Linked DNA regions of Homo sapiens. The protein of the gene in region 1 interacts with the protein of each later gene in a pairwise test. Each region holds a gene or a part of one and is shown on either strand. Other genes may lie near its edges.

Evidence for each region.
Region 2: the proteins of ZMYND12 (region 1) and MOAP1 interact in binary tests that used the Homo sapiens proteins (3 or more experiments, as listed by UniProt).
Region 3: the proteins of ZMYND12 (region 1) and FAM50B interact in binary tests that used the Homo sapiens proteins (3 or more experiments, as listed by UniProt).
Region 4: the proteins of ZMYND12 (region 1) and ONECUT3 interact in binary tests that used the Homo sapiens proteins (3 or more experiments, as listed by UniProt).

Annotation. Positions count from the first base shown.
Region 1 is NC_000001.11:42,439,011-42,446,033, forward strand, and holds part of ZMYND12 (zinc finger MYND domain-containing protein 12), read right to left. Parts: intron 1,016-7,023; coding exon 846-1,015; intron 1-845. UniProt on the Homo sapiens protein: Required for sperm flagellum function and male fertility.
Region 2 is NC_000014.9:93,181,882-93,189,892, forward strand, and holds MOAP1 (modulator of apoptosis 1), read right to left. Parts: upstream 3,017-8,011; 5' UTR 2,929-3,016; intron 2,833-2,928; 5' UTR 2,678-2,832; intron 2,482-2,677; 5' UTR 2,362-2,481; coding exon 1,306-2,361; 3' UTR 318-1,305; downstream 1-317. Other genes in the region: LYSET (lysosomal enzyme trafficking factor), read left to right, coding at 3,525-3,604, 4,379-4,790.
Region 3 is NC_000006.12:3,845,388-3,851,839, forward strand, and holds FAM50B (protein FAM50B), read left to right. Parts: upstream 1-3,985; 5' UTR 3,986-4,099; intron 4,100-4,401; 5' UTR 4,402-4,424; coding exon 4,425-5,402; 3' UTR 5,403-5,930; downstream 5,931-6,452.
Region 4 is NC_000019.10:1,749,142-1,756,520, reverse strand, and holds the start of ONECUT3 (one cut domain family member 3), read right to left. Parts: upstream 3,016-7,379; 5' UTR 2,859-3,015; coding exon 1,667-2,858; intron 1-1,666. UniProt on the Homo sapiens protein: Transcriptional activator. Binds the consensus DNA sequence 5'-DHWATTGAYTWWD-3' on a variety of gene promoters such as those of HNF3B and TTR.

The DNA.
Region 1 (7,023 bases):
AGTGCTTTCTTATACATCTAGCTCTTTTAAATTTAATAACCAACACTCTGAAGTAGAGATATTACTGTTATTTTTTAAAATAATAGCCAAGGTACTATACATTTATTGTCCTATTATTAATCTTCGCAATGACCCAGTGAGACAGAGACTATTTTATTATTCCTGTCTTGCAGGTGATGAAAGAGGTTAAACAAATTTTCCAAGACGATGTGGCTAGTGAAACAGATCTGTGACTAGAAGCAAAGCCCTTCTCTCTCTCTCTTTTTTTTTTTTTGAGACGAAGTCTTGCTCTGTCGCCAGGCTGGAGTGCAGTGGCGCGATCTCGGCTCACTGCAACCTCCACCTCCCGGGTTCAGGTGATTCCCCTGCCTCAGCCTTCCGAGTATCTCGGACTACAGGCATGCACCACCACGCCTGGCTAATTTTTTGTATTTTAGTAGGGACGGGGTTTCACCATGTTGGCCAGGACGGTCTCAATCTCCTGACCTCGTGATCCACCCACCTTGGCCTCCCAAAGTGCTGGGATTACAGGCATGAGCCACCATGCCCGGCCAGCAAAGCCCTTCTCTTAACGAGTATGCTGTTTTGCCTCCCTTTACTCTTCAGGGCAACTGAAACTTCAGGAATATGTGACCTGGCCAAGGTTGAATAGCTATGAAGTAGAAATGCTTGAACTCGGGTCGGTAGAATTGTGTTATGGCTAACATCCCACCAAATAATCAGTTGTAAACAGAAAGTTTTAGAGAAATGCACAGTTTTAAAAAAATTAAACAGATTTTGGAAATATACAGGTGTTATAATTTAGATTTTGGAAATATACAGGTGTTATAACTTAGCTTGTTTACATCATTGGCCAGATGATAACGGGCCTCTTCATAGTTTTTCTTAGCTATATAGAGAAGTCCCAGATTCCGATGCAGTAAAGAGTGGGTGGCATTACTACAGTCAGTTGATTTGAGGACTGTCCACTGGGCTTGGAATAGATATTCTTCAGCCTGAACGATTCGGCCCAGACCTGCCCAAAAGCAGAAAAGAAGGTTATAATTCATATCCAGGCCAAAGAACACATGAGGAAATATGAGTCATTACCCATTCACTCATGTATTCATTGACTCAAGTATTTATTGACACAGAAAAACTCATACAGGAATGTTCACAGCAGCCTATTTGGAAGAGTAAAAAAAAAAAAAACAGAAACAATGTAAATGTCCATCAGCTGATGAGTGGATGAACAAAAGGAGGCATCTCCATCTCCATCTCCATCTCCATCTCCATGAGTGGAATATTACTCAGTCATAAGAAGGAATGAAGTAGTGCTACCTGCTATAATGTGGATGAACTTTGAAAACACTATACTAAGTGAAAGAAACCAGACACCAAAGGCCACATATTGTATGATTCCATTTATATGAAATGTCCAGAATAGGCAAATCCATAGAGACGGAAAGTAGACTAGTGGTGGCCAGGCGACAGGGGGAGTCCAATGCAAGGGAGGCACTAACAGGGGGTCCAATGCAAGGGAGGCACTAAGAGGGAGTAACTGCTGACAATTACAGGCTTTCTTTTAGGGGTGATGAAAATGTTGTGGAAATAGATCATGGTGATTGTTGCACAACCTTCAGAATGTGCTAAAACCAACCACTGGATTGTCCTTTTTTTGTTGTTGTTGTTGTTTTTTTGAGGGAGTCTCACTTTGTTGCCCAGACTGGAGTGTAGTGGCGCGATCTCGGCTCACTACAACCTCTGCCTTCAGGTTCAAGTGATTCTCATGCCTCAGCCTTCCAAGTAGCTGGGACTGCAAGCATGCACCACCACGCCCCACTAATTTTGTATTTTTAGTAGAGACAGGGTTTCACCATGTTTGCCAGGCTGGTCTCAAACCCCTGACATCAGGTGATCCACCCACCTCGACCTCCCAAAGTGCTGGGAATACAGGCGTGAGACACTGTGTCTGGCCTTAATTGTTCTTTAAAAGGGTAAATTTTATGATATGTGAATTATATCTCAATTGTGAAATATATATATGCATATTTAATACCCTTTCTGTGCCAGGCCTTGTGTTGGGTGATGGGGAATCAAAGTGCAACATGAAAACAAATATATTTACAATATAGTATAATTGCAATAGCAACACAAGCTTTGGAAGTGTCAGAGGATAGGAAATGTTTAATTCTATAGATGAGATGGAGAGGGACACTGAAGCAGAGTCTGAGCTGGGTTTTGAGGATGAATAGAAGTTTTCCAGGTAGATAAGGCAGGGAGAGCATCCCAGGCAGAAGTAACAGCATGTGCAATGTCATAGAAATATGAAATAATATGTTATGTTCATAGAACTATATAGAGTCACAGCTGCAGGGAACTGGTTCCAGAACCCCCATCAGATACCTAAATATAAGGATGCTCAAGGCTCTAATATAAAGTAGTGTAGTATTTGCATATAACCTATGCACATCATTCCCTATGCTTTAAATCATCTCTAAATTACTTATAATACCTAATACAAAGTAAATGCTATGTAAATAGTTGTTCTACTATATCATTTTTGTCTTTTTTGTTTACATTTTTTCTTTTTTTGTTTATAAGCCCACAAGTAACATCATGTATTGTTTTGTTTTGTTTTGTTTTTTTGAGACGGAGTCTTGCTCTGTCGCCCAGGCTGGAGTGCAGTGGCGGGATCTCGGCTCACTGCAAGCTCCGCCTCCCAGGTTCACGCCATTCTCCTGCCTCAGCCTCCCAAGTAGCTGGGACTACAGGCGCCCGCCACTACGCCCGGCTAATTTTTTGTATTTTTAGTAGAGACGGGGTTTCACCGTTTTAGCCGGGATGGTCTCGATCTCCTGACCTTGTGATCCGCCCGCCTCGGCCTCCCAAAGTGCTGGGATTACAGGCGTGAGCCACCGCACCCGGCCGTATTGTTTTTATTTGTATCATTTTTAATCATTGTATTATTTTTAAAAATATTTTTGACCCATGGTTGCTTGAATGGGCAGATGCAGAACCTACAAATATGGAGGGTGTAGGGACTGTATCGGCCTGTGATGCTGGAGCACAAATTGTGAAAGACAGAATGGCAGAAAATGAGGCTATGGTGGTAGGCAGGGGGCAGGTCATGGAGGGCTTAGTGAGTTATACCAAGGAACTTGATGCATGTGGATAAAAACTAGAGGATTTTCAAAAAGGGCGAGAGAATCAGATTTAAATTTAGAAAGATCCTCTGGAACCAATGTGGAGGAGGGACCAGAGGGGAGGAATAAAGGTAGAAGATTCACTGGAAGATGTCTGAAATAGTTCGGACAAGCACGCTTAAGAGCCTGAAACAAGACAGTGAACTAAAGAGGAGGAGATCAAAAAGAGACAGGAAGTAAAATGGACAACACACGGTTACTAAGTAATGTGGAAGGTAAGAGAAAGGAAAGCCACATTTATTGCTAATATTTAGATACTCTTGACACTTAAAGCTTTTTGTGTATTACATATCATCTTTATATATACAGAGGCCTGCCTACCTGCTTGACTCCTGGGGAAATTTGTCAGAACAGAATAGAAAGCCACTACGTCAGTGTGCTGCAGGGTAGGAGGCGTGCTCTGGGGGCGAAGCATTGGTGTGATAGGTGCTGCAGCAGAAATGGCATCAACAAAGGGTTAAGAGGTAAGGACACGAACCCCTCATAAGCCAACCCTCTGCTCCTCTGTGTCCTTCCTGTCAGACCTAGTTCATATGTAAGCATGCTTTTATTCTAGTTGTAACCCTACATCACTGAATTAAAGGAAAAGAGATGAAGAGGAAGCAGTCTACAAGAAGAAGGAAGTAACTTTGCCTGATGGAAGGTCAAAGTGCAAACTAAAATGGGAAACTACTAGATTAGGAGCACGAGGCCTAGTCCCTGATCCTGGCTCATGTGAACATGGCAAGTCACATCTTCCCTCCAGGCTTTGTCTATAAAATATGAGGTTTAGGCTGAAGTCCTCTCACATTTGAAGAAGCAAATGACTCTTAACTAAGATTGTTTAGATGGGAAAAAAATGGGACAGGGCATTGACAAATATTGGAAATTTAAAATTTTCAACATCCAGTTCTCACTCAAGGAGGCAATGCCAAAGAATGAAGACTCCAAGGCCCAGCTGAACCAGCATCTAAACAAGCATCAGTCCTAAAGGAAAAGGCATACTTGGGAGAATAAACTGTGAGGCTAGAGAGAGAGAGTACGGTGAGAAGAATGGGCTACTACTAGCCCATGAGATTACAGTCAGAACTAAGCTTGTGACCAGTGAGTGCGTAAGTTCAGGCCTGCCTCTTATGGACAGTGCCTACCTGGAGAGGCATAGGGTGAAGTGGAGGTGGTGGAGACATAAAGGAAGTGATACTATCCCTTAGGGTGATTTTACTAGTGTATGGAATTGGGAAAGGACAGCCACTTACAGACCAGTGGTACTTGTCTGAAGGGTGAGGCAACAGGCTTACACTGGGTTAACGGCAGATCTGGGAGATATTATGGGAGAAGATTTTGCAGGACTTGGTGATGAAAGTGAAGGAATGCAGCATACAGCAGTCACAGCTGAGTCAAAGGTTGTGGCTGTGAGGTGCCCAGGGGAAGAAAAGGGAATCTGTATTTATTGAAGACCTGTTATTTGCCCAACATTGTGCTAGTCCCTTTGCATCGGTGGTCTAAGTCTGCTAACAACCCTGTGAAATAATCATCAGATGAGGAATTTGAAGAGGAGGCAACTTCATTCATTCATTCAACCAAACATATATTCACCTAATTGATTGAGTCTCTATCACAATGCATGATGCTCAATGCACACTAAGACATGATCCCTGACTCCAAGAAGCTTAAAATCAAGTGAAGTAGGCATACAATAAATAGACAAAACATGAGTGCTGTGAAGGAAATGAACAGAACACAGTAACCAAAATCCTAGCTCACTGCAGCCTCCACCTGCTGGGCTCAAGCAATCCTCCCACCTCAGTCTCCCAAGTAGCTGGGACTACTATAAGTGCATGCCACCATGACCGCCTAATTTTTTTGTTTTAAGAGATGAGGTCTTGCTAGGTTGCCCAGGCTGATCTTGAATTCCTGGGCTCAAGAGATCCTCCCATTTCGACTTCCCGAAGTGCTGAAATTACAGGTGGGAGTCACCATGCCTGGCCAGTTTAAGCAGACACCTGAAGGATGATCAAAAGCCAGCCACGTATGAGAGAGAAAAGAGCATCCCAGGCAGAAGGAACCATATATGTGAGAGCTCTGAGTGAGGAAGAGCTTGGTGCCTACGATCACCCAGACAGTAAAGAAAGAGATGATATTTGAACTCAGGCTCTCCTGCTTCCAAATCACTCCAGTCTGAAGTAATCTCTAAGATGGGAAAGAAACATGTGCACAGGAAAGTGATTTCTTTAGACTTCCAGAAACGTTAGCAAGGTTTTAAACCAATGACTGTGAAGTTACAGTGAAATCTTCCATTTAGACAGTACTTTCCAGACTTCAAAGCACTTTCATGGTCATTACACTCGAACTCATTTCACCCTTAAAAGAATCCTGTGAAGACAACTCAGATTCAACACATACTTACACAGTGCTCACGAGGTTTCAGGTACTGTGAAATTATCTTTTTAGTACCTTCTCTGTGCTAAGTACTGGGCTGAGTGTGAAGACATCCGTGATAATTAAGAATAGACACAGATCCAGTTCTCCCCTGAGCTTACAGTCTACTGGAGCAGGGAGACAATTAAATAATCTCATCAATGAATACAATTATTAATGGACTAAGTGCTCAGAAGAAAGGAGTAGTTCTTTTTTTTTTTTTTTTTTTTGAGACGGAGTCTCGCTCTGTCACCCAGGCTGGAGTGCAGTAGTGGTGCGATCTCCTCTCACTGTAAGCTCCGCCCCCCGGGTTCATGCCATTCTCCTGCTCCAGCCTCCAGAGTAGTTGGGACTACAGGCACCCGCCACCACGCCCGGCTAATTTTTTTGTATTTTTAGTAGAGACAGGGTTTCACCGTGTTCGCCAGGATGGTCTCGATCTCCTGACCTCGTGATCCGCCCACCTCAGCCTGCCAAAGTGCTGGGATTACAGGTGTGAGCCACCGTGCCCGGCCAGAAAGGGTAGTTCTTTAAACAAGTATATTAAAAATGAGACCCAGCTGGGTGCGGTGGCTCACACCTGTAATCCCAGCACTTTGGAAGACTGAGGTGGGTGGATCATTTGAAGCCAGGAGTTCAAGACCAGCCTGGGCAACATACTGAAACCCTATCTCTACTAAAACTACAAAAAATAGCTGGGCGTGGTGGTGCGTGCCTGTAGTCCTAGCTACTCGGGAGGCTGAGGTGGGAGAATCACTTGTCCCTGGGAGGCAGAGGTTGCAGTGAGCCAAGATCAGGCCATTGCACTCCAGCCTGTACAACAGATCGGGACTCCGTCTAAAAAAAAAAAAAAAAAAGGGGAGACCCAACCTGGTCTGGAGCCCTGGGAAAGCTTCTAGACAAGGCAGTAGTAACCCTTGAGCTGAAACCTGAAAGATGATAAGGAGTTAATTTGGTGAAGGGAAGAGGAGGAGAAGCAGAGAGAGTGGCTACAGAAAAGCCTTTCCAAACAAGGAAATCATCATGCTTCTGAGGAACTGAGAGAAGGCCGGTCGGTGTAACTGGAAGGGAGGGAGAAAATAATTCAAGAGAGACAAGGTGATAGAATTGAGGTGAGAGAATTTGTTAACGGCTAGATCAAGCAGAGCCTCATGGGTTGCTTTAGAAATTTGATCTTTATTTAGAGGAGTGATGGGTCACATTTTTGTATGCAAACCACATTGGAGGGAGGCCAGAGATGATGTGGGGAGACCAGTTAGTAGGCAGTGGTCTAGATGAGAGATGATGAGACTTGGGCTAGGGTGACTTTTCCAGAATCCCATAGCTAGCCAGTGTCAGAGGTAAACAGAACCTGGGCTGTATTTTCTTGTCCAGTGCTTTTCTCATTACTTTGGAGGAAAGACAGTCTGGAATGGGGTGTCAGACCTGGGCAGGGTGAGCA
Region 2 (8,011 bases), on another chromosome or scaffold:
GAAACTTTTAGTCCAATCTTCCAAGCAGCAGCATGCAATGTTCATTTCTTTCCTTCTCCTTCCAAATTTGACACACTGATACATCTGCACTACTCGCACTAATTTGTGCACTGTCTTGTTTCATCCCATTGTTTTACTGCTTCGGTAGAAGGTCCCTTCACTTAGAAAACAATTTCCTACCCCTGAGCACCAAGAGGAAAGAGTCCAAGGAACTAAGTCTGTGTAGGTTCAGTGGTTTGCAGATTCATGCTTTGGGAACTCTTTATTCAAATGAAATCTCTCTTGGAACCGTGATATAAACAAAACAGACAAAGTCATTTTATTAGCATTCCTTTATTTTAGAAGTTCACACCTATAATTTTATAACAATCGTGAAAATGTTACTCAGAACTAGATGTTTTGATGACACATAGCAGAAATCTGTGGTTCAAGATGGTCATTGCAAACTTAACCAATCTCAGCATTCTATTCTGCCTTTTGTTTTGATTGCACAGAATCAATATAATTCTGATTCATATGGAAAATAACTTAATATCTTAACCTCCGCTCAGGATCTTCATCATAAATGTAGGTCAGTACATACCTAAAAATTGTCAATGATCCAACATGGTCACATGTGACATGCTACACTTGCACCTAGTACCAAACAAGCTGATACTTCAATGAGATCTGGTTGGCATATACACCCAAGCCTTGTCTGTCCCCTCAGAGCACTGCACACAGATAGTGAAAGAACTTGTGTACAATAAGAAATTCACAGGGATGAGGCTGGGCGCAGTGTCTCACGCCTGTAATCCCAGCACTTTCAGAGGCCGAAGCAGGTGGATCACTTGAGGTCAGGAGTTCGAAACTAGCCTGGCCAACATGGTGAAACCCCGTCTCTACTGATAATGCAAAACTTAGCTGGGCGTGGTGGCACATGCCTGTAGTCCCAGCTACTCGGGCAACTGAGGCAGGAGAATAGCTTAAACCTGGAAGGCGGAGGATGCAGTGAGCCAAGATCACGCCACTGCACTCCAGCCTGGGTGACAGAGCGAGACTCTGTCTCAACAACAACAACAAAGATATTCACAAGGATGAATTTAAATAGGTAAATGGCAGTGTAGAACTACATCCTTCCTAGTCAATTACACCTTTAGGAGACTTTAAATAGGCACAGAAACGACAAAGGGCTTATACTGAGAATTGCACAAAAATGAGTTACTTGGCAGCACAAGGTAGGGATTGTATGTGTCACAAGAGTATATAGACTGTTCTACCTTCATGCTCTACTCATTGCCATATCCCTTCGTGGTTCCCTGAGACTCAGGTGAAATTACCTTCCAATATTGCCTGGAGAAGGGCCTCCTCCTCCTCAGCTGCCTCATAATCCTTTATTAGTACCAATAACTGCAAGAAACCAGGGGCTGGGCCATCCTCTGGCAGATTAAGCTCTCTGCGAATTGTTTTGTGGACTGCCCCAGCAATGACTTGGTCTAGGCGGGCCTGATTCACAGCATCTCTCTCAATTGCTCCTCTCTGTACCAGCTTCTGTAACAAAGGCTCCAGCCTTAGTACATAAGCCGACAACTTTTCCTCATCCTTCTGGTAAGTGGTTAGATATTTGACCTGCAACTCCCTAGGATTATCTGTAACCCCAAATACCTCCTCAAGAGCCTGCAGACATTCATCGACAGTAATTAAAGGATTGTTTATCTTGAGGACACGAATAACATCAAGTGCTGGGCCTCGAAGGCTCTCTAGCAATCGCCTTCTCTTCTCTACATCTGGCACCTGCCACGCCTTTATCATCTGAGTAGTATGAAACATCCAGCGTCCAAATTCTTCTTCTCCTGGTTCTGGAGACTCCCTGCCCGAGAACACTCTCAGCTTTTTATACTTCAAGCATTGCAGGGCAGGCTGAAGAGCCTCTAATGCCTGTGCCAACATAGGGGCCCACATTTCCGGGATCATGCCCTGCTCTGGGTCTAAGGAGCCATTTTCATGTCCAAGAGCTCTGCTCAACTCACCCACTGTCATGCCCTCTCCCGCTAAAAATTCATTTAATCTGCTTAAAAATGTATTATCTGGGTCAGGGGGCTTAAAGATCACTCTCCAGATACCCCCTTTTCCCGGTATCTCCTTAGGGACCAGGGCGTGACTAGTCTCCGCAGTAAGCCCTACTAAGGCTACTTTCCTGTTCTCATCCCTCCTGAACATCCTTCCAAGCAGTCTGTACTCCCCCAAGGGAGCTAAACCAGCCTGCAGAGCCTCCTCGATTTCTGCCACACTGCAGCTCTGGGAGATGCCGGCAATCAATAGCGCTTTCCGAGGGTTCATGTCCATCCCCCTGCACCAGTCTTCTAAAAGCCTCAAAGTCATGGTGCCCGAAATAATAGACTTAAGTTCTAAATATGCCAGACCACAGGCGACCACCGAAATTCAAAGTAATCCTCCGCGGTACCCCAGAGAAATCTTGTCAACGTGCCGAGGTCCAGCAGCCTGCAAGACAGAGCAGACAGGTTAGCTAAAGGTGCCAACGTCCAGGGCAAGCGTGCAGGCCCCAAGCCCCGCGCGCCCTGCCCCCAGCGGCGACGCCAGGGCAGCCGCACTGCGGCGCGCGCCCCTCACCCCTCCCAGCCCTGGTGCCTGGCGGATGTCGGGCCTGCAGGGCCGCGTCGGGCCCGCTTCCACTCACCGTGATCTAGTGCTCGTGCCCGCGTCCGTGCGCCGGCGGCCAAGGTGCCTGGCCGGGCCCCGACGAGGCGCGGGAGGGCAGGCTCCCCTAGGCTCTGACGGACACTCGGGGGCCACAGCGACCGATGCCGGTACTCCAGGTGCCTGTGGTACTGTCTGCAACGAGAAGTGATGGGGCGATGACAGTCGCGAGCGGGCACCAGGGGGCAAGGCTGAGGAGCGCTGAGTCGCCAGACCCAGAGAGCCACCCACCTGGAGGGACGTGCCGCCACCCGCGCCGCCGGAGCTCCGGCTCCAGCCCGGATTCCACCTGTTTTGGTCTCGCTCGGGGAAGCTGCGCGGCGGGCGGGGGCGATCTGACGTCATGAGGGGCGGGCCTCGGGGGCGGGGCGCGCGCGCTTCCGGCCCGAGCCGGAAGCTCCGACTGCGGCGGCATCCGGGACGGCGGGCGGGCTGGCCACCACGGGACAGGAAGGTGAGATCCGGGACCTCAGCTTTGCAAGCAGGCTCCGCCGGCGACCGCTGACGGGCGCTGGGCTCGCGGCGCTGCAAGGCGGCGAGGCCCGGGCCTGGCGCCGCCTGCGCAGCCTTGGTCGCGGCGTGCCGGCGCTGCAGCGCGGCAGGGGGCGGGGCCGGCCGCCCGGAGGCCCAAGTGGCGGGGACGCCTCCCTGCCGGGTCAGGTTCTCAGAGCGGGTCTCCGGCGGCGGCGACGGGGGCCGGGCCGCGCGTGACCCGCCGCAGTCACGCCGTTCTTAATCACTAGTAGCTGGTGCTCCAGGCTGGCGGCGCTCACCTTTCTCCTAGCCGGGTGACCCAGGGGATTTATTTTATGTTGGCTTTCTCTGAAATGCCAAAGCCACCCGATTATTCAGAGCTGAGTGACTCTTTAACGCTTGCCGTGGGAACAGGAAGATTTTCGGGACCATTGTAAGTGCTTAGGAGTTACTGTCTTAACTTGGGGGCTTGACTTGTAGCACCCCGCGTTCACGTCTGAAGCAGTACTGTTATGCCAGAAAGTGTTTCACCTGTCAAAGTGAAATGTGCTGTGAGAAACTAGTTTAATTCCAGTTTCTGGAGGGCGGGTATTATGGACCTGTTTAAGTAGGATGCAGTGATTTATTCTGAGGGATTCCCGTTAAAAAGCAGAACTCAGTATATACTGAAATCAATGGTTTTTTGTTTTTTTGTGTGTGTTGTTTTACTTGATTGTAAGTATTACACAAAACAACCTGTAAGTTTTACATTTCTTAATAGGTGTTTAATTTAATTATTTTAAATCTTAAGTGTGTTAGTGGGATATTTTAGAATTCTTTTTTTTTTTTTTTAATTAGACAGAGTCTCGCTCTGTCGCCCAGGCTGGAGTGCAGTGGCGTGATCTCGGCTCTCTGCAAGCTCTGCCTCCTGGGTTCACGCCATTCTCCTGCCTCAGCCTCCCGAGTAGCTGGGACTACAGGTGCCCGCCACCACGCCCGGCTATTTTTTTTGTATTTTTAGTAGAGACGGGATTTCACCATGTTAGCCAGGATGGTCTCTATCACCTGACCTCGTGATCCACCCGCCTCAGCCTCCCAAAGTGCTGGGATTACAGGCGCGAGCCACCGCGCCCGGCCTAGAATTCTTGGAGATAAAGCAAGTACATTTGGAGTAGTTGCCGTGACAGCATTACTAGACCCTAATTGTATTTTCTTTTTTAATTTGAAGGCACAGAGCATGGAGAATGATGAACTTCCGTCAGCGGATGGGATGGATTGGAGTGGGATTGTATCTGTTAGCCAGTGCAGCAGCATTTTACTATGTTTTTGAAATCAGTGAGACTTACAACAGGCTGGCCTTGGAACACATTCAACAGCACCCTGAGGAGCCCCTTGAAGGAACCACATGGACACACTCCTTGAAAGCTCAATTACTCTCCTTGCCTTTTTGGGTGTGGACAGTTATTTTTCTGGTACCTTACTTACAGATGTTTTTGTTCCTATACTCTTGTACAAGAGCTGATCCCAAAACAGTGGGCTACTGTATCATCCCTATATGCTTGGCAGTTATTTGCAATCGCCACCAGGCATTTGTCAAGGCTTCTAATCAGATCAGCAGACTACAACTGATTGACACGTAAAATCAGTCACCGTTTTTTCCCTACGATTACAAAACTGCCAGTCCTATATGGAGTCTGATCACAAGACTGCAGTTTCTTCACAGATCTCAGGAAGTTGTCGTGGGGCAGAGGCTTTTTAAAAACATGTGATTAGGGAGCTATCTTTATCTGAATAATAACGAATTTTTAGGTAAAACCTGAGATAGAGTACTACAAAATCATGTTGATGACTTCAGATTTTGGAAGTTAAATCATGTCTGTTATTTGCATTCTTTAGAAACTTGACTAAGTACCTGAATTCATATTTCTATTCTACTGTGCAACATAGTGATGATTCAGAAATTTTTCCTTTGGGGAAAAAAATGAATATGAACATTTCCATTGTGTTAAGTGTAAAAAGGTCCAGACATGATCATAAAATTTAAATTTTATACAATTACTTGGCTTGCTTTAAAATTCTTCACACTTAAAACACCGATTCATTCTATTGCAGCTAAGCCAGCTGTCTAGACTTGCTGTCAGCTTATGAGGCATTGCTAAAAAATTATTGAGGAAATGGCTGTCTTGATAAGCAGAATTTGTTCTTCCTCTTGGTAATGGCTAAATTATTATTAATGCTTTTAATGGTTTTATTTTTTATATTTTTCTTTTTTGTGGAGAATGGGGTCTCGCTATGTTGCCCAGGCAGGTCTCGAACTCCTGGGCTCAAGCTTTCCTCCTCTCTCTGGCTCCCTAAGTGCTAGGATTACAGGTGTGAGCTACCATGCCCAGCTATTTTTAATTAAAAAAATTTTTTTTTTCCATGACTTGTGACACAGTCTCAGAAGGCCCTGAGAACGTACGCTCCAATGCTACTGATTTAGAAAACTATCTGGGAAGAAACTAAGTGTTAAATGTTGAAAGGCTAGAAATAACTTACAAATAGAAGATGGAAACAATGTGTTCAATGAAAATCTAGCAGGTTATTTATTATTTATTTAAATTATTATTATTATTTTTGAGACGGAGCCTTGCTTTGTCACCCAGGATGGAGTGCAGTGGTGCAGTCTTGGCTCACTGGAACCTTCGGCTCACTGCAACCTCCACCTCTCGGGTTTAAGCGATTCTCTTGCCTCAGCCTCCTGAGTAGCTGGGATTACAGGTGACCACCACCATGCCTGGCTGATTTTTGTTATTTTAGTAGAGACAGGGTTGCAGCATGTTGGCCAGGCTGGTCTCAAACTCCTCACCTAACTAAGGTAATCCACTTGCGTCAGCCTCCCAAAGGCCTGGGATTACAGGCATGAGCCACCATGCCTAGCTGTATTTATTTATGTTATTTATTTTGAGATGGAGTCTTGCTCTGTAGCCCAGACTGGTGTGCAGAAGTGCGATCTCAGCTCACTGCAACCTCCACCTCCCAGGTTCATGCTATTCTCCTGCCTCAGACTCCCGAGTAGCTGGGATTACAGGCACCCACCACCATGCCTGGCTAATTTTTGTATTTTTAGTAGAGACGGGGTTTCACCATGTTGTCCAGGCTGGTCCCGAACTCCTGACCTCAAGTGATACACCTCAGCCTCCCAAAGTACTAGGATAACAGGCATGAGCCACCATGGCCAGCCTATAGCAGGTAATTTAGTCCAGTCCTTATCAGATGCATGAGACCCCTCTAAAAGATGCTATCAAGTCATAATCTTTCTGATTTTCTTTTCTGGCCCAAGGTCAGGTCATCAGGCAGTAGGTTAATTACATGAAGATGTGTTCCTGTACCTTCTCCTTTGCATTTGTACTACCTCACATCTGGTACTAATACAAATAACTAAAACATGGACACAGTAGCATTTCTTTTCTGCATGAGATCAAGATATATTTTTATACAGTTATGTCATTAATACTGGAAAACATTTTATGCTTTTAATAATCAACACTTTTTGATGCTTATTCTGTTGGGCCCTATTCTAAGAGCTTTATGGAAATTAACTAATGTAATCCTCCCAACAACCCTATAAGATGGGTATTATTATCCAGATTTCACAGATAAGGAAACTGAGGCAGAGAAGTCAAGTAACTTGCCAAAGGTCACAGCGAGTAGCAGAGCCAGGGTTATAACCAGGCATTCTAACGCCATCGTTACTAACCACAGAGGCATAGCGCTTCTCACAAATGACAAATGTTTTAGCACTGGGTACTCTTTGCCCAGTCATGCCAAAGAATGGAAATGGCAATAGTATTGACAAGTTTTTCTCTATTTGTCTACTAGAAATCTGAAAGTTTCCTAGCAACCTCATCTTTCCACTACATCTGACTGAACCCGAAAGGAAGGCTGAGTATTCCATAGCAAGCTGTTACTTAAAAGATAAAGCAGGTACCTTTGTGATGTAAAAGTAGCAGATCAGATCCTTCAGATCAATTAGTCTCATTTATCTCACTGCCTCCAAAGGTCTAGTTACTGAAATGATATATCTTTTGATATAACACGTGGAATCCTCAAAGTAAGCAGCAGTTTGAAATACTTGTTTTTGTGAGGGTCAGATGACCAAATCACTTGCATCTTTTAAGTATTCAGTATGCATGTTACAGACATTGTTTATGAGTGATTTACATTTATTCTTCACAACAGTCCTGGGAGGCAGGTATTATACTGCTACTAGTGTCATTTTACAGAAGAAACCTGAAACACGTAGGAATAACTTGTCCATAGTCACATAGCCAGTATGTGAAAGAGCCGATTTGAACCTAGGATGTTGGCTTCAGATCTCCAGCTTTTTATCATTCTATACTGCTTCTCAAAAAGGAGAGTAATTTGAGGGAAATCATTGAGAGTTGCCAGTTTTATTAGTCTTGAGGCAGTGATTTAAGAAAATTATTTCAGTTTTGTTTTGTTTTATAAATGCTTTATGTAGGCTGGGAGTGGTGGCATCTGTAATCCTAGCACTTTGGGAGGCAGAGATGGGAGGATAGCCTGAGCCCAGGAGTTCATGACCAGCCTGGGCAACATGGCGAGACCCCATTTCTATTAAAAAGGGGTGGCTCATGCTACTCCCAGCACTTTGGGAGTCTGAGGTGGGCAGATCACTTGAAGCCAGGAGTTCAAGACCAGCCTGGCCAACGTGGTGAAACCCTGTCTCTACTAAAAATAGAAAAATTAGCCACGGCTGGTGGTGCATGCCTGTAATCCCAGCTACTCAGGAGGCTGAGGGAGGAGAATCGCTTGAACCCAGGAGGGAGAGTGGCAGTGAGCCAAGATCGCATGGGCCACA
Region 3 (6,452 bases), on another chromosome or scaffold:
ATTCAAGTTCTGATTCGATTAGAGAAAGAGTGAATATAGTATTTGTGGCCAAACGATAGTCGATTGAATTAAAGTTTAGTTGGTTGGATCATTTAACTGAAAAAAAGAGGTGGAGAGGCTATCTTATTTATGTTAAGTGTAATAAAGGTAATTATATGGGAAACCTGAGAGAGGAGACTATTGGTAATTTTGTCCATCTGTGGGTGGTGATGGTGATGGTGGGTGCTCCAGGCTTCCTCTTGGAGATGACATTTGTGCTGATCTTCAGGGATAGCACAGCGAAGGGCAGGACTTTCTAGAAAGAGTACGTCCAGAGGTAACAGTTATGAAAGGGCAACTTTTTTTTTAGATGAAGTCTTTCTGGGTCACCAGGCTGGAGTGCAGTGGTGCGATCTTGGCTCACTGCAACCTCCATCTCCTGGGTTGAAGCAATTCTTCTGCCTCAGCCTCCCGAGCAGCTGGGACTACAAGGCATGCACCACCACACCCAGCTAATTTTTTTTATTTTTATTTTTATTAGAGACGGGGTTTCACCATGTTGGCCAGGATGGTCTCGATCTCTTGACCTCGTGATCCACCCGCCTCGGCCTCCCAAAGTGCTGGGATTACAGGTGTGAGCCACTGCGCCTGGCCTGAAAGGGCATCTTCTATTCAGGCGCAGTGAAAAAGCTGGGTGAATGCTGCAGGGGTCCACCTATTAGAGACCTTAGAGGACAAACAAAGAGATTCTGATGTGGCTGTTACAAGGGAAGTTGGAGTTTTTCAAGTAGGAGAGTAATGTTATCAGATTCATTTTTTATGAAGATCTCTGAGGATATTGTATAGAAGTTAGACAAGAACAAGAATACAGGCATACCTCGGAGATACTGTGGGTTCAGTTCCAGACCACCACAAAGACAGTCACACAAATTTTTAAATTTTCTAGTGCATATAAAAGTTATGTTTATACTATACTATAGTCTAGTAAGTGTGCAGTAGCATTTTGTCTAAGAAAATAATGTGCATAATTTCATTAAAAATACTTAATTGCTAAATAATGCTAATGATCCTCTGAGCATTCAGTGAGCTGTGCTCTATTTGCTGGTGGAGGGTCTTGCCTCAGTGTTGATGGTTGCTGACTGATCAGGGTGGTGGTTGCCAAAGGCTGGGCCTGTGGCAGTTTCTTAAATCAATATTGAGTTTGTCACATTGATTGATTCTACCTTTCACGAAAGATTTCTTTGTAACATGTAATGCTGTTTGAATCAACTTCTTCCAAACTTCTGTTAATGTTGATATTTTACCTCCTCCCAAAAACTGTGAATGTCCTTCATGGCACCTACAGTGGTGAATGCCTTCCAGAAAAATTTCAATTTACTTTGCCCAGATCCATCAGAGAAATCATTACATACAGCAGCTATAACCTTTGGAAATGTATTTCTTAAATAATAAGACTTAAAAGTCAAAATTACTCCTTGATCTATGGGTTGCAGAATGGATGTTGTGTTAGCAAGCATGAAATCAACTTTAATCTCCTTGAGCATCTCCATCAAGCTCTTAGGTGACCAAGTGCATTGTTAATGAGTAATAATATCTTGAAAGGAATAATCAGAGCAGTAAGTCTCAACACTGGGCTTAAAAATATTCAGTAAACCATGCTGTAAACAGATGTGCTGTCCTCCAGGTTTTGTTGTTCCATTTACAGAGCACAGGCACAGTAGATTTAGCATAATTTTTAAGGGCACTAAGATTTTCAGAATGGTAAGTGAGCATTGGCTTCAACTGAAAGTCTCCAGCTACACTAGCCCCTAGCAAGAGAGTCAACCTGTCCTTTGAAGCCATGAAGCCAGGCATTGACTTCTCCTCTCTAGATATAAAAGTCCTAAATGGCATCTTCTTCCAATAGAAGGCTATTTTGTCTACATTGAAAATGTATTGTTTAGGGTAGCCTCCGTCATCAGTGCTCTTAGCTAGATCTTCTGGATAACCTGCTGCAGCTTCTCCATCACACTTGCTGCTTCACCTTGCACTTTATGTTATAGAGGTGACTTCCTTCCTCAGCCTCATGAACCAACCTCTGCTACCTTCAGACTTTTCTTCTGAAGCTTCCTCACCTCTCTCAGCTTCACAGAATTGAAGAGACTTAGGGCCTTGCCCTGGATTAGGCTTTGGTTTAAGGGAATGTCGTGGCTGGTTTGATCTTCTATCCAGACCACTAGAACTTTCTCCATATAAGCAATAAGGCTGTTTTGCTTTCTTATCATTCATATGTTTACCAGGAAAGCGCTTTCAGTTTCATTCAAGATTTTTTTCCTTTGCATTCACAACTTAGCTAACTGTTTGGCAAAAGAGGCCTAGCTTTTGGCCTATCCTGGCTTTTGACATACTTTCCTCACTGAGCTGAATCATTTCTAGCCTTTGATTTAAAGTGAGAGACGTGTGACACTTCTTTTCACTTGAACACTTAGAGGCCATTGTAGGGTTATTAATTGGCCTAATTTCAATATTGCTGTGTCTCAGGCACTAGGGAAGCCTAGGGACAGGAAGAGAGATGAAGGAACAGCCAGTCAGTGGAGCAGTCAGAACATACATAACATTTATCAGTTAAATCAATAAACGTCTTTGTCTTCTACTGCACACTTCGGAGTGCCCCCAAACAATTACAATAACCTCACAGAACGATGATCACAGATCACCATAGCAGATATCACAATGAAAAAGTCTGAAATATTGCAAGAATTACCAAAATGTGACACAGGAACACGAAGTGAGCACATGCTGCTGGAAAAATGGAGCCAGTAGGCGCTTGACGCTGTGTTGCCACAAATCTTCAATTTGTAAAAACAAAAACAAAACACACAGTATCCCAGAGCTCAATAAAATAAGATATTCTTGTATTCTGGTGATGGGGCAACAATGAGAAGGCTTTAGATTAAAAAAAATGCTAATTTCCTAGATTAAGGCAAGTGGTGGGGAATGGGAGAAAAAGGAAAGTGTGAAAGGCTCTTCTGTAATTGATTACCTGTGGAGGAACGTCATTCCAGGAAAAGGCCTAGGTTTCTGGCTTGGACAATTTGATGAGGGCTCACACCGTGCTGTTCTCCTCTGGATATGTGGGTGCCATATGTAATTATCATATGATTCACGCTTCTTGGTAAGGTTATGCTCACAGGCATTGTTGCTCTTAGGCGGGAGGAGGCTGAACCGCAGTATGTATTTCACAACCAGCTTTTCCAAACTAGGTCCCAGGAAGCACTGGTTTCGGCGAGTGTTACCAGATCTCCTGCAGGGGAGAAACGGTCACGAAACATGAACTGGTCTGCCCTGCTCTTGGAGAGTTACAGTGGAAACTGGCATGTTAGAGGCTCACAGTAAAGACACTGCTACACTTTAACTCAGTGTCCCATGGTTATTAGAGCTTAGAACCCGGGGGAAACTGCTGTATAGAAGAGGTCAAACAAGCTGAGTGCAGGTTTTGTCACGAAACTGGGGGGCGAGTAGGGTTCTATTATCAAAGAATGGTTGTGTTGGGGCCATAAGAAAGAATTACAGGCAGTGGTGCGCAGGTAATGTTCACGAGACGCCACAGCGGGGTAGCATCAGAGGCGGGAGGAGGAGGGTTGGAGAGCAGGGCCGTGTTGCAAGGCTCTCTGGGTGGCCACAGCAGCTTGCGCTGCGCCCACATTGCTTCTGCGTGTTTACAGTTGGGCACGAGAAGGCTCAGCACGCACGCACAGCAGGTGGGGGCCCGCCCTGCCCACAGCGTGAAAACAGGAGCCCCGGCCAGCCACGGCTGGGCAGGGCCAGAAGCGCCTCCTCCAGGATCCTCCCCGCGCTGGCCCGCCCCACAGGAGCACCGCCCCTACCAGGAGCCCGGAGCTCTTCCCAGGGCCCGCCTCCCCGCCAGGGGGCGATCCACCTCCACTTCCTGTTTCCGCAGCCGCCCTACCAGGAGCCTGGCACTCTCCTCAGGGCCCGCCTCCCCGCCAGGGGGCGCACCGCCTCCACTTCCTGTGTCCACGGCTGTCGCGAGAGCCCGGGGCGAGTGGGCCTCTGCTCGTGGGTGGTTCTCGTGGAGGTCAGCTCCCGCGTGTCTCCGCTCGACAGGGTGCTTGGGCAGGTAAGGGTCCGCTCAGTAGCCCAACCCTCTCTGTATGCAGCTCCCCAAATTCAGCGCTGCGCTCAGGCATGGCAGCCACCCGTTACGTGGGGCCGTTCGCATTTGCATTTATTGAGGTCAAATAAAATGCTGGAAATTGGTGCCTGGTGACACTGTCAGGTTGGTGGTTACCCTAGCAGGTCGGCCCAGCCCCTGAACGCTTCCATCACTGCCGAAAGCCCTGTGAGGAGGCGCAGAGCTGAGCATTCCCCGCCGTTGCGTGGGCCCCCCTCTACCTGCCGCGTTTTTCCTCTTTGCTGCAGAGCCCATCGGGTAGGCGCGGGCCATGGCGCAGTACAAGGGCACCATGCGCGAGGCAGGCCGTGCCATGCACCTCCTCAAGAAGCGCGAAAGGCAGCGGGAGCAGATGGAGGTGCTGAAGCAGCGCATCGCCGAGGAGACCATCCTCAAGTCGCAGGTGGACAAGAGGTTCTCGGCGCATTACGACGCCGTGGAGGCCGAGCTGAAGTCCAGCACGGTGGGCCTGGTGACCCTGAACGACATGAAGGCCCGGCAGGAGGCCCTGGTCAGGGAGCGCGAGCGGCAGCTGGCCAAGCGCCAGCACCTGGAGGAGCAGCGGCTGCAGCAGGAGCGGCAGCGGGAGCAGGAGCAGCGGCGCGAGCGCAAGCGTAAGATCTCCTGCCTGTCCTTTGCACTAGACGACCTCGATGACCAGGCCGACGCGGCCGAGGCCAGGCGCGCCGGAAACCTGGGCAAGAACCCCGACGTGGACACCAGCTTCCTGCCAGACCGCGACCGCGAGGAGGAGGAGAACCGGCTCCGAGAGGAGCTGCGCCAAGAGTGGGAGGCGCAGCGCGAGAAAGTGAAGGACGAGGAGATGGAGGTCACCTTCAGCTACTGGGACGGCTCGGGCCACCGGCGCACGGTGCGGGTGCGCAAGGGCAACACGGTGCAGCAGTTCCTGAAGAAGGCGCTGCAGGGGCTGCGCAAGGACTTCCTGGAGCTGCGCTCCGCCGGCGTGGAGCAGCTCATGTTCATCAAGGAGGACCTCATCCTGCCGCACTACCACACCTTCTACGACTTCATCATCGCCAGGGCGAGGGGCAAGAGCGGGCCGCTCTTCAGCTTCGATGTGCACGATGACGTGCGCCTGCTCAGCGACGCCACCATGGAGAAGGACGAGTCGCACGCGGGCAAGGTGGTGCTGCGCAGCTGGTACGAGAAGAACAAGCACATCTTCCCCGCCAGCCGCTGGGAGGCCTATGACCCCGAGAAGAAGTGGGACAAGTACACCATCCGCTAACACCCGCCTGCCAGAGCGGAAACCGGGGGTGGGGGGAGACACTCATTTCTAGGCCCCATCACCAGTCACTTGATTTCGTGACCTTGATTTCTTCCCCCAAATTTAATAAAGACAGAGGGTTCTCATGATTCACATTGGTTGTGCTATTGCTGATGTTATGCTTTGGTTGCTTGGTTGGTCTTTTCTGAGTATTTTAGTGTTGCCACCTGGATTTGCTGCATTGCTCTGCTGAGCTGTATTGAAACCATGACTGGGCCCACTGTCAGACAGAAATTAGAATAGGAGGCACATTTTTTACCTGGTGGTTATGAGCATGGACTTGGGGGCCACAGTGACTGAGTTTGATTCCCGACACAGCCTCCTCCTTGCTGTGTAGTTTTGGGTAAGCTTATTAAACCCCCATGCCTCAGTTTGGTCACCTGTAAAAGGAAATAACAAGAGCACTTACTTTATAAGATTGATGTGAGTATTAAGTGAATTAATATTTGTAAAACGCTTAGCTCTTAATAAATGTTTCTGTTGTTATTATTATGGTTTTGGTTAATTTATTTAAAGGACTGCAATGACCTAGTTCAGAACCATTTGAGGGCAAAGGTGGACCTGCCCATCACTGGTCCCAGGATCAGCAGTTGCCAGCAGGAGGGGGCTAGCAAAGGTTGGGGAGCAGCCCCCCTCTAGTGGGCTTTAGCTGGGTTGTTTAGCCCAGAAGTTAGGAGGACAGTGAGCTAATGCAAGTAGCCTGCAGGGTCAGTATCATTGATTTTCCTTTTGCTCCAATATGACTCCACAGGGCACAGTTACAGATCCTGTCTTCATTGAAAATGTTTGTATTTTATTCATTGTGGATTATTTCTGTTAATTTTGATTTTTAAAAATACTGTATTCAGGCTGGGTGTGGTGGCTCGTGCTTGTAATCCTAGCACTTTGGGAGGCCGAGGTGGGTGGATCACCTGAGGCCAAGAGTTCGGGACCAGCCTGGCCAACATAGTGAAACCCTGTCTCTACTAAAAATACAAAAATGTGCCTGTAATCCCAGTTACTTGGGAGGCT
Region 4 (7,379 bases), on another chromosome or scaffold:
GTGCCCTCTGCCACCTGAGGCCTCGCACTGCACCTCGAGGGCCGTGGCTGTGTGCGGATATGACCGCCGGTCTATGGTGAGCGCACGAGTGCCGCTGTATGTGTCATGGGGAGGGGAGCAGGACAGACTGAAATCGTCCAGGTTCCCGGACCTCCCTGAGCACAAGGTTACCCTGCCACACGCGAAAGACTATTTATTTTCCCGTGCCCCAAAGCAGAAAAATCTAAGAATCCCATAAGAGGTTCCAGCTAGTCACCTTGCTTGCTCTGCAGAAGGGGGAAACTGAGGCCGGCCTGTGGGTCCAGGCTCCCAGGGGGTTGTCTGGTCCTCCTGGGGTGGAGGGAGGGAATGGCTTTCTAGGGAGGAACAGCACAGGACACCCCGCTGTCCTCTCTTCGCCCAGCCCCCCTGCCTGGACGGGCTGCCTGGGGGCACAGCCGCAAGCCCCTCTGCCTCTTTGCTAGTGGGGCGCCTCCCAGAGCCCCCGCCTTTCTCGCCCTTGTGCTCGGAGAAGCGATCGATCAGGCGCCAGCCGCCGCGGCTATTGTCCCTGTGGCCCGGGTGGACAGCCCCCTCCCCAGCACCACCAGGGAAAGAAACCCCCACCTAGGCCAGGGGCCCTCCTGCACCCTTACACCCCCACCTAGGAAATGGGGGCCTGGCCGGGCTGCCTGTCAGAGGGCAGGTGTGGACTTAGCTGTTGTCAGCTGGGAGGGAGGAGGGAGGAGGGTCCCCAGGGGGCCGGTGGCTGAGTATGAGACAGAGACAGAGGCGGAGAGACCGACAGGGAGAAGAGATAATGAGCAGGAACAAGAGCAAAACGGAGAGCAAGAGAAAAACATAGAGATACCAGTGTGTTCCGACCGAGAGAGGAGAGAAGTGGACATGAGAGACACAAAACCCCAAAGCCAGGCGGGCAGGGGCGCGCGCACCCGAGCCACGACCAAACTGCGCGGGGCGGGCGCCGGGTCGGGGTGTGAAGGCCTCCGGGCGGCGCGGGCCGAGGGTCCCCGGGGCCGCCCCTCCCCCGCCATTCTCGGGTGACCTTTGCCAGCGGCCGGAGGGGAGAGGGAGGGGGTATCGATCGCGGGGCCGAACTACAAAGAAGCGCGCGCTGGGGCAGGTGGGGGGATGAGCGCGGGCTCGGCCTCTGCTGCTGAGCTGCAGGCGCCCGCCGCAACGTCTCGGAGCTCTGTGGCCCGGGGCTGGGGGCTCAACAGCCCCTCTCCACCCACTCTGGAGGAGGGGAGTGGCACCTTAGCCGACAACAGCAGCTCGTTCGGGGACACAGCTCCCCCCAACAGGCGCGCGCTCACACACACACACGCACACACACAATGAGCTTCCCTGAGGGCTGCTTGGGGAGAGGCTCGGAGCCTCCCAGCAGTCTAACAAGGACTAGAGAACCCCTACGCGCTCCCGAAAGGGGCAGAAGCGGCGACCGGGGGGCGGGGAGGCGGCACAATCCCTTTCTCCCTTTTGGCAACGGTACAAACGGGCAGCGGCGCGGATCGCGGTCTAGCTTCCTGATAGGGGGTCCCGGGCTGCCGGGGCGCACGGGCGGGGCTTGGGGCGCTGGCCCCGGGCATCGGCCGCCGCCCCGCTAGGTGCTCGGGAGTCCAGAGCCGGCGCCCCCAGGGTCTGGCCCTGCGCGCCACGCTCCTACCTGCCAAGCGCAGCGCCGACATGCGCTGGAACTCTGGCTCCTGCAGCCACTTCCACATCCTGCGGAAGGTCTCGCGGCCGGATTTGAGCTTGCTCCACGGCTTGGGGTTGCGCAGCAGGTCGGAGAGCGTGCCCTGAGAGCGACACAGGATCCGCTGCGCGAAGATTGCCTGCGGGATGCTGTAGCGCTTCAGCTCCGCCGTGATGCGCTGCGCCACCTCCTTGGTGTTGATCTCCTCGGCCGCTGCGCCCGCGCTGGGGCCGCCGCCGCTCCCGCCGGGGCCGCCGCCTCCCCCGTGCGGCCCGTGCGCCCCGGCCGCCGCCAGCCCGCCCAGCGGCGCCAGCAGCCCCGCGGCGCTCCCGCTGCCCGCTCCGCCGCTGCCTGTGCCGCCGCCGCCTCCGGGCAGCCCGCGGGCCAGTGCGTCCTCCGCGCGTCCCAGCAGCGCGGCGTGCGGCTCGAAGGCGGCGGGCGGCAGCAGCTTGTCCCCAGCCAGGTGGCCTGGCGGGCCGTAGGCGGCCAGCGGCGGGGGTGGTGGCGGCGGCGGGGGCTGCGGGGCGCCGTGCAGCGCGGGCGGCAGCGCGTTGGGCAGCGGCGACAGCGGCGACCCCATGGCGGGCAGCTCCTTGCCGTAGGGTCCGTAGAGGTGGCCCACGGAGGCGAGCGCCGCCCGCTCGTCGCGCATGAGGGTGAAGCTGCCGCTCACGCTGGCCGCCAGACGCTGCGGCGGGGGTGGCGGGGGCGGCGCGGCCGCCGGGTGCGGGTGCGCGTGGGGATGGCCGCCGTGCGCCCCGGCCACGGCCGCGGCCGCCGCGTGCTGGTGGAACTTGTCGGCCACGGCCGCGAGCGGCGGCAGGTGCTGCAGGGGCGTGAGCGTCGTGTAGGTGCCGCCCAGGCCCGGCGCCTCGCAGGCCATGCCCATTGCCGGGTGCAGCGGGCCCGCCAGTTCCCCGCGGAAGTCCGCGCCGCCGCCCGCGCTGCCCGCGCCGCCCGCGCCCCCGGCGCCCCCACCGCCGCCGCCGCCGCCGCCGTCCAGCAGGCTCGCCATGCCGGCCACCAGGCCCGGGCGCCCGGGCGCCACCAGGCCGCGGTGCTGCGCCGCCGCCGAGCGCGCGTGGCCCGGGCTCAGCAGCTCGCCCGCCTGCGCGTGGGCCACGCTGTGCAGGCCCCCCAGGCTCTCCAGGCTCAGCTCCATGCTCGGCTGCCCTCCCGCCGCGCGCGCTCCTCAGCGCCGGCCCCTAGTGCTCAAGGCCGCTGCATGACTCCCGCCCGCTCCCCGGTGGCTGCGCGCGAGGCTGCCAGGCTGCGCGGCGCACGGCCCGGCCCGGCTGCGAGCGCGGCCACCAGGATGTGGCAGGGGAGCGGCCGCCGGCGCCCGGGCCCGGGTCTGACGTCAGCGCCCCCGCCCACCCGCTCCTGCCACCGCTGCCTCCCGCAGCCTCGCTCTCCGCCCGCCCCGGCCCCACTCGAGCACCAAGCAGGCCGAAGTCGGCCAGACTTGGGGCTTCGGCGTCCCTGGCCACTGCGCCCGCCCGCGCCCGCTGGGGCAGGCCGTACCCGGGGGACAGCGGGCGGGGGTCCGAGGACAGACTCTGCCCAGGTGGGGCTGGGGGCCTCGACCCAGAGTCTCCGATTTCGCGTCTCTGTGTGATTCTCTCCAGAGTCCCAGATGTGGCTTTCTGCCTGGCACCCCCAAGTCCATCTCCAGGGAGTTTCTGGGAGTGTGGCTGGACGGTCGCCTGTAATGTACGTGTCCCCCCCCCCCCCCGTTCCCTACAGACCCCCAGGAGCTAGATCCCCACTGCAAGCTCAGCTTCCCCCGACTCCCACTCACACCTACGGAGTCACAGCCCCCTTCCCACAACCTCTTTGTGGAGGAAGTGGGGGAAAAGGGAGGTCCTAAGGCTAGGTCAGGGCCTCCGTGCGCCCCAGGGGTCAGCCTCTGCCCATGTGTGGGCACCTGGGCCTCCGTTTCCCCAACTGTACAATGGGCTGCCCGGCCTCGGGGTTGCCAAAGGCCCCTTCTAATTGCAGGGCCTTTTTACAGTGCGGCCGCTGGAGGCACTGGAGCCTGGGGGTGACCACTAAGAGCCCCTGTCACCCTCCAGCCCACGGAGGCTGAGGCTGGATCCCCTGTCTTCTGAGACGTCGCTGGTGCAAACTCCTCTTTGTCCCTGGGGCTTCTCTTCAATGTGGGGGGAGGCAGGGGTCTCCTTTTTCTCAGCACCTGGAGACAGGTGAGCCCCAGGGGCCCCTGGGAACTGGGATAGATGGGGGAAGGGCTCCTATAATCAGAGAGACCCCCAGGGGACTAGATCCCGCCAGTGGGGTAAGGTCAGGGCTGCGGATCTGGAGGGGCCAGACCAGAATCTAGAGGATGCTCTGTCTTGTAGGCCAGAGGCTACGGTGCAGAGTCCAAAACCAGCCTCAGCCCCTTCCTGCTTCCCCGTTGCCTCTGCCCCCCCCACCCCCGGGGTAACGCTTGTGCACTTTCTAGAAGAGGAAGGGGATGGGTCAGGCAGTCGGTTCGCGGGAGCCCCCAGTTACCCCCATCTCAGAGGGTTGCATCAGGGCTCAAAGCTGAAGGAAGAGGGGAGGACACAGTCAGGCTGTCACTTCCCCTTTGGTGCAAACCTTCTGGGCAAACCCCGGCCCCAGCTTTGCACCTGCATCCAGATTTCCTGGCCCCTGTAGACGTGGCTACACATTGGAGATGCGATTTTCTGAACCAAGACTAGGTTGGCTCTGGAATAGGGCCCTTTCTGTGCCTCAGTTTCCCCTTCTCTGGTGTGGGAGGGGGTGCCCTCCAGCCTGCCCAGCTGGGAGCCGGAGGTGAGTCTATGCTGACCACAACAGCCAGAGAGAGAGGGGGCCTGAATGATCTGGGCCCCCAGCCTGAGGTGGCCTGATCCAAGTCCTGGGGAGGGATAGGGCTGAAGGGGACCCCTGTTAGTACTCGCTGCTTAGGGCTCGGCATTTAGTAAGTGCCTGTTATTTACCAGGCATACTCTCCTCTCTCAGCCCCAGAGAGGGGGAAGTCAAATCACAATTTTTCCGGGTGTCTCTGGCCCAAGGTGGGGGGGTGGTGGCCCTAGAGTTCCCCCCTTCATTCCTACATCTGCCCAAGTGCTAACTCCTGCCCCCTGAAGTGTCGGTCCCTAAACTTTCCAGTTCCAGGGTTCAGGTATAATTTCTGGAGTTTACATAATTACACCCATCTTCCAGGTGGGAAGAGAGGGGCAGGTCCGAACAGTCGCGTACCCCACTCCCCGTGCAGATGCTGAATCTCGGCGGGGGGGATGTGGCTGCACAGAGCCCCAGCCTGCGCTCCTCATTCTCACCCTCCAACAATCACAGATAATTAAAAATAATCGTGAGATCTAAAAATCAATCAGCCGCCATAAAACGCTAGCATCCCAGGCTCAAGAAGCGCAGACCAGGTGGGGGCTGGGGGTCTCTACGGGTGGGAGGATAACAAGGTGGAAGGAAGTTCCCCCAAATGCCAATGTGGGGGAGCTCCTAGGGAGCTGGGATTTTGCAGGCTTCCTTTTAAATATATTTTTTACAGCTTGATGATCGTGTTCATTTTAATAGCAAGCGTGTGTGGCTTTTCTAGCAGGGAAAGCATCCATTTTGAAAGAGAAGACGAGGGTCAGGGACTCCGAGAGGAAGAGGGCCTCTCCCCTCTGCTGCCTCAGGACACGCTAAGGTGGCCACAGACCCCTTCCAAAGCTCCCTAGACTTGGAAGGGGCAGCCCAGCCTGGTGGACCTAACCCTATCCAGGTCTGCGAAGCCCCTCACCCCTCCCTTCGGCTGATGGACACTTGGACTCCCCCAGGGATGGGGATCTCACTCCTTGTAGAGGCTGTGGTCCCGTTGAGAGATTGAACAGAATTTTGCTGGCCCCAAGAGAGGGACTGTGGCCCCCTGGAGCCCCCAGCTTGCTTCTCCCCACCAGCAGCAGCCTTTTAGTAATTAGTAAAATAGAATTGAGCCGGCCACCGGGTAGGCTGGCTGCCCAGGCCCAGATCGATCCTGGGTCATTAGGCAAATTGTGGGCAGGGGGAGGGGTGGGCTGGATCGGGACAAGAAGTCCCCCTTCCCCACCCCACAGGGACCTCAGCCACCTCGAGGAAGCTCTCTGGCCTCAGTATCCCCTCCAGGAAGATGAAAGTTTGACTCCCAGAGCCCGAGTCTGTGTCTGGGAGTTGGGGAGGGGGACCTCAGCAGGTGCTGGGCTGCCCCAGACCAACGCTCACCCTCTCTGTGCCTGGCCTGCGTCTGGGAGGAGTCAAAAAGGGCAGCCTCTGGTCCTGCCAACCTCAGGGCTTGGAGAGTCCCGCGGGTGGAGGGGAGGACTGGGGGCCTCCACCCATGCCCCAGGGGTGCGCACTCTCCACGGCTTCAAACTCCCTAAACGGACCCCCTAAGCTTGAACCCCCTCTTTAATCCTCCACACCTCCCCCATTTTTGGACACACCACCTTCCCTGTTGTTATTGACTCTCCCATTGCAGCTAAAAATATCAAAGGCAGAGTCAGATACCTCAAGTTTTCCTTTCCTGGGGCTCCCCCAGAACCCTGCACAGTGCGCCCCCAACTGACTTTCTGATTCGATTTGTCTCCCACCGAAATGAAAGTGTCCGGGCTCTGCGCACCCCTCCCTGCTTTTATTAAAGCGAGGTTTTACTAAACGATGGCAATGAATGCGCGCCCCACCCAAGCCCAGCCGCAGCCCTAGATCCGCTCTGCTCCCACTCCCGGCCCCCGAAACCTGCGGGCGCCCCAAATCCCGGCCGCCGGTGCCTAGTGTGTGGCAGGAGTTCTCCCTCTGGACTCCAGCCGCCTTCGTTCGGGCGGGGTCTGGGGATTTTATTTAGATTTGGGGGGAGACTCTGGGCTTTTACGGCCTGGCGGGGGTCCCGGCGAGGCTGAGCGCGCGGCTCCCGAAGGTTCCACGTTGGCCGTGGGGACGTCCTGACCTCCCCACCCCGGGTGTCGCGACTTTGGGGTTTCGCCCCTGGCGGGCCCGACGTCCCGGATTTCCTGCCCGCAGTTGCGGGGCGCCCGGGCAGCTCTGGCCCGCGGGTGGATGCTCCCGCGGGCTCTTAGGCGACAGCTGTGCCCGATCGATCCCCGCGCCCGCCCGGGCTCCGTTGCCCCCGCCGCGGCGAGCGGCTCCATCGAATCCTCATCGCTCTCGGGCCGCGCCGCCCGCCTCGCGCTCGGCAAACACCGCGCTTGTTTGCGCCGGGGCACCGAGGCTGGGCGGCCGCGGCTGGCCGGGGAGCGGAGGGGTTGGTCCCTGGGGCCCCGCGTCCTCGTCCCCTCCCTCAGCAGCTTGGCCTCCGTCGTCCCAGAGTTCTGGGACACAATTAGAGGAGGGAATTCTATGCCCTCTTCTCGGGGCTCTGTCTGGCAGGCGCGGGAGACGGCCGGGCGCGGGACTTCCGCCGCATCGCCCTGGCCGCGCCTCAGTTTCCCCATCTAGAAAGTAACACGCTGGGGCGGGGGCGTCCGAGGGTGCCCGAGGGGAAGGGTCCGGGCTCAGGCGGGAGGTCAGGCTGCTCTCCTCTCGCGGCCTCCGCCTGCTTTGCCTCCTCTGTGCCCGGCCCGACCGATGCAGGTCAGAGAGCCGGGCTGGGGGTTGAGGCGCAGCCGGAGGGGTCTGGGGACAGGAACGCGCCCCGTCTCGCAGGCCTGGGCCCCTCCTCACT